Regions from separate parts of the Homo sapiens genome. Here region 2 is linked to region 1. Evidence: fine-mapped expression QTL. A gene starts in region 1. The other region holds a variant in brackets. All regions are shown on one strand. Distances are between the middles of the regions.

Evidence for each region. PIP is the estimated chance that this variant, and not a neighbour inherited with it, causes the effect.
Region 2: its variant is fine-mapped to the expression of HTR3B in whole blood (TOPMed, PIP above 0.99).

The regions. Positions count from the first base shown.
Region 1 is chr11:113,903,255-113,906,177 of GRCh38, reverse strand. HTR3B (5-hydroxytryptamine receptor 3B) reads right to left here and starts at 1,382. Exons shown (of 9, transcript NM_006028.5): 1 at 1,193-1,382. The coding sequence starts at 1,244.
Region 2 is chr11:113,959,421-113,962,343 of GRCh38, reverse strand. No RefSeq gene overlaps it. Among named protein-coding and RNA genes, the nearest start is that of HTR3A, 14 kb to the left of the region's middle. The variant T/GTGATT (reference allele first, on the strand shown) is at 1,264.

The DNA.
Region 1 (2,923 bases):
GAATGATTTATGGTAAAGCACTGGTTATCAGACACTATTAAAACACTTCTTTCTGCTACATTTAGAACAAAAATCATGCATAATACAAAACATTAGAGAGATATTGTTAAGAACTTAGTCTGTTTTCTTACCTTCATTTTTCTATTTTATCTTAGTTTAATGTTCACGATTATTTTCTACTAAGAAACCCATTTGGCATTTAATGACACTTCCTCTGTTTTTATTTTTTACAATTAAGATATGCTTTTATCCTTTATGTTCAACATCCAGGATTTTTATACTTTAATGATAAGTGGCTATTTTTCTTCTCTACCCAATAAAAAAATCATTTCCAGCTTCCTGGCTACCAAATTTCTAACTCATCTCTATAATTGACTCATTCCACTTCCAGTTACATCCTAAAACTTGAGAATTCAGATATGAGCTCTAGGAGAAACCTCAAGAAAGTGGGGTGTTGAGAACACCAGCATAATCATAAATTCTTGATTTGTGCGCATGTACTAAGAATCAATTGTATCCTAACTAAAATGATTCAATTCAGTAGAGTTAATACTGGTGCCATGGAAATATAGTTCTAGAAATTTAGAAAAAAAAGTATTAACTTCTAAATTACTTTTAAGAGGAATTGTAGACTCAAAACTTACCAGTTTATAGTACCTGTCTTTAGAGATATACTCATCACCTATATAGATTTTGTAAGGCGAGATGTTAAGGCCTCTAATACCAAAATGATATACATATATCTGTAGCCATGACAAATCTAGTGGACTTTTTCTCTGGGCTGCTAACAGCTGATAATGAAGCCAAGACTATTTTGGATAATAAAAACATATTATCCACACATAAAAGCAAATTTGAAAAAGAATGCCCCAAACTCTCAATCAACCTGCAGAGAGCTTGATTTCTAGAGAAGCAGAGATTTATCAAGCAATTATAACATTTCAGAGCATATTTTCAGCTATGTGTAAAAAGCCCCACAGTCTGATGCTATATGTATACGTATTTGCAATCATAGGAGCCAAGTCACAAACAAATCATTGTTTTCCATATAGCTTCACAGGACTGGCATTTTACAGACGATGAATAAAAACAAACATGCCTGAGAAGTCCTACAGTACGGTGTATACAAATATTGTCTCTATCTTCTAAGAGTTAATCCTTAATGCCTAGTAAAATTATTAAAAGGACTCACCTGCAGCCACCAGGATGCAGGCCCACAGGGGAGCCATTACACTTGACAACATTCCTGGGCAGATCCCAAAAAGGAGAAATGCAAACTTGCCTACCAGATGGAATGCCGCTCAATTTCTCCTAACAGGGTTCCTCTCCACTCTGTTCTCCTCCTTCTCCGTTTGCCAGTTGATGCTATCCTTACTGGTGCTATTTTGTAAACACTCAGTGGGACCAAAGGCAATACCAGCACCATGCAAATGTTTTGGAATTGATGCCGTCATGAAATCCCTTAACTTCTCCCTTTGGTTCTGCCCCAAGATCAGACCGTGGCCAACATTTCCATTTTCCTGACAGGAGATAGCTAAGTGAATAATGTAATCTAAGAGGAGCCCCTAAGGAGAGGAAATTCCACACTAATATGATTTCCTTTACAGCCTTTACCTAAGGCAGTACTCTTGCTGACATTCAGGACACTAATTTCATTAATAATTGAAATCCAAATAGCTGTTCTAAATCAGACTTATGCAGTAACATCTTCAGCATTTGACAGTGGTTCTTGGGCTCTTGAATTACACAAGGCTAATGGAAACCTGGTATTGTCTAATGAAGAACAACTGCAAACAATGCAATGGAAAAGTGCTTTTTGTTTTTCCTAAGCCCTTTTAATTAAAAGAAACATTGACTTTTGATAAATAGGAGGGCTTCTCAAATTTTCACTGCTCACAATTCAGAAAGTAACCTTCTAGAAAGGATGCTTCTAGGCTTATTGAAGATGAAAACAAAGTTCAACATCATTTAATAAAAGTTTTTTTTTCACTTTTTGATTGAATACGCATTCATTTTTCATTACTAAGGAACATGATGCATAATTCTATACAATAACACTATTTTCCATTTCTAGACACCCCCAGATGCTCTAGAAAGAAAAAACAAATACCATTTCCAACATCTGCCTGCTTTTTTATTAAAAATGAGATTATAGAGGCAAATTTTGATATAAATTTTCACAGAGCCAACCGAAGGGGGGAAAGTATATATTTGATTCCTATTCTCCTAATCACTCAGTCCCTTTGTTTAGAATCCATGAAGTTCTACACCTAATTTTCATCTACCAATAAAATGTAGCCTAATTGCTTTCTTACTGTTGGTGAAGGGAGTGGTATACACAGAAAGAGAGAAAACTAAGATAACCATTTGGTGTTGACTTGGTTTTGGAGGTATCAGTGTGAACCCATGGTTTTCAGTACATTTGCTAAATATATAAATAATTGCAAATAAGCTGGGCGTGGTGGCTCAAGCCTGTAATCCCAGCACTTTGGGAGGCCGAGGCCAGTGGATCACTTGAGGTTAGGAGTTTGAGACCAGCCTGACCAACATGGTGAGCCCCATCTCTACTGAAACTACAAAAATTAGTCAGGCGTGGTGGCACATGCCTGTAATCCCAGCTACTCGGGAGGCTGAGGCAGGGGAATTGTTTGAATCAGGAGGTGGAGGTTGCCATGAACCAAGATCGCGCCACTGCACTCCAGCCTGGGAGACAGAGGGAGACTCCGCCTCAAAAAAAAAAAAAAAAAAAGAAAAGAAAAGAAATAAATACAAATGTAATGTGTGTTTGCACATGTTCATACATGCATATATTCCCTAGCTCTGTCCACTTAGCAGCCTAGGAGAATGACACCCCAATAGTAACAAGCACACCTAGCTTCCATAGCTCTTCCGGTATAGTCTTGCCAAAAATTCATAACTTGAA
Region 2 (2,923 bases), 56 kb before region 1:
ACATGATTACTGCTCTGTATCACTGTCTATTGGGCACTGGCGACATGGCTGAAGGGAGATGTGTAGACAGGCTTGCTGGGGGTCATCACACAGGTTCCATACACAGCTAGGCCTGCAGGGTGCTTCCTACCCCAGGGCCAAGTGGAAGATCTATGGATGCAGTTGGGTTCACGGTTGATATAGTTTGGATGTTTGTCCCCTCCAAATCTCATGTTTTGAAATGTGATCCCCAAGGTTGGAGGTAAGGCCTAGTGGGAGGAGTTTGTGTCATGGGGGTGGATCCCTCTTGAATGGCTTGGTGCCCTCCCCATGGTGATGAGTGAGTTCTTGCTCGAATTGTTCATACAAGAGCAGGTTGTTGCAGAGCCTAGCTGCCTTGCCCTCTTTCTCTTTCCTCTTCTCTCACCATGTGAAGCCTGCTCCCCTTCACCCTCCACCATCAGTGGAAGTTTCCTGAAGCCCTTACCAGAAGCAGATGCTGGCACTATGCTTCTGGTATAGTCTGCAGAACCATGAGGCAAACAAACTTTTATTTATAAATTATCCAGCCTTGAGTATTCCTTTAGAGCAATGCAAGATGGCCTAAGACAATTGTTGCCCTTTTGCTATTCAAACCATCTCAAAAGCTTTGTGTGGTATCCTGAATAATGGCCCCAAAGATACCCAGGTCCTAATCTCTGGGACCTATAGCTCTTACCTTAGACGGCAAAAGGGAAAATTACAGATGTGATTAAATTAGGGATCTTAAGATGAGAAGTTGTACTGGGTTGCCAGGGTCCGTCCTAAATGTACTGATTTAGTGTCCTTATTAGAGGAAGGCAGAAGGAGATTTGATGATGGAAGAGAAGGCTGTGCATGACAGAAGCAGAAACTGGATTTGAGCCTTGAAGACGGAGGAAGGGGACATGAACTGAAGAATGCCAGTGACCCCTAGAAACTGAAAAAGGCAAGGGCACAGATTCTCCCCTGAGAACCTCCAGAAGGAACCAACTCGGCTGGCAGAATTGGTTTAACCCAGTGAAACTGACTTCGGACTGTTGACCTCCCGATCTGTAAGACAATAAACTTGTGTTGTTTCAAGCAGCTAAATTTATGGTAATTCTTCACCGTGGCAAAGGAAAACGAACCCATGCCATTCCACAGGCAGTTCTCATTTTGCAATCACCAGCACAAACCCTAGTTTTGTTTTCTTACATCACACAAAACCTCAGACCCTCGGAGGCCAAGGTTGGGGCGGGAGGACCCTGCAATATCCTGAGTGAT[T/GTGATT]TTCAGCCCTTCTGGCCTCCTGTTCCTCCTCTGGAGTGCTCTCAGTTGAGCTACCCTCTTCTTCCTCCTCCTCTGGAGCGTTCCACCTCTGTAAATAGACCCTGAAGTGTCTTGCTGGCCTGGAATAGCTTCCTGGAGAGGACCCTCTCAATCTTCCTGGTTCCAAGCATTTAATTAGTCTTAAATGAAGAGTCCTGGAGAAGCGCTCAGCAGTCTGCGTGTATGCTGACATAATCACATTTGCACATTGGCTGTTGCCACTGATTGTCCTCCTGGAAATTTTCCTTTCTCTCTGGGTTCCCTGAAGGTGGTTTCATGCACTCAGAGAGCAGCAGCATTTCCCAAACTTGTCCTCTTGTTTCAGAGGACTCTTCTAAATCCCGTATCTTGATTTGTCATTGCACTGAAAAAGGGTCGAACTGAACAGCCCCAGAGTATTCCTGAACTTCACACATGAACATACTAATGGCTACGACTCAGTGTTCCTAGGCTTGAGATTTTTGTATATTGTCTCATTTATTCACCACAATGACCCTGCAAGGTAGAATTACTATTCCCACCTTTCCGATGAGGAAATGGCAGCTCAGTGCACTGAGGGACTGAGTCGAGCTTGGTGATTAGAAACTATGTGGTAACTGTGAGCACTGTGCCTCGAATATTCCAGTTCTCCCCCTTTCTGGGCACTTGTAAGGATTGTACTTCCTGGCCTTGTGGTGGTTCGGTGGGTTGCACGACAAGGACAGTAGGACACTGAGTTGTGAGCAGAAAGGACGTGTGTATCTTCTTTTTTTTTTTTCTCCTGAGATGGAGGCTCCCTTTGTCTCCCAGGCTAGAGTGCAGTGGTGCAATCTGGGCTCACTGCAACCTCCACCTCCCGGGTTCAAGCGATACTTCTGCCTCAGCCTCCCTAGTAGCTGGAATTACAGGTGCACACCACCATGCCCTGCTAATTTCTGTATTTTTAGTAGAGACGGGTTTCACCATATTGGCCAGGCTGGTCTCAAACTCCTGACCTCGTGATCTGCCCACCTCAGCCTCCCAAAGTGCTGGGATTACAGGCATGAGTCACCGTGCATGGCATTCCTTTTTTTTTTTTTTTTTTTTTTTTTGAGACAGAGTCACTTGCTCTGTCACCCAAGCTAGAGTGCAGTGGTATGATCTAGGCTCACTGCAACCCCCACCTCCTGGGTTCAAGTGATTCTCCTACCTCAGCCTCCCGAGTAGCTAGAACTACAGGCGCCTGCCACCACACCTGCCTAATTCTTGTATTTTTAGTAGAGATGGGGTTCCACCATGTTGGACAGGCTGGTCTTGAACTCCTGACCTTAAATGATCCACACCTACCTCAGCTTCCCAAAGTACTGAGATTACAGGCGTGAGTCACCACACCCAGCCACATGTGTATCTTTCTGTGCTGTGGTGACTGGTGATGTTCGCAATGGAGGCTGCAGCGGCCTGGGTCTCAGGGCGAGGACATAAGATCAGAGCTGGGGCTGACCTCTGTGGGCACAGAGCTTGCTGTCGTAAGCCACAGAGATTTGGGGATCATGTGTTACCACAGCAATAACCTAGCCTGTCCTAACACCATTCAAATGCCAGCTCTGCCACTTCCTAGCTACATGCCTTGGACAGGTTAGTCAGCCTCTCTGAAGGGAGGATG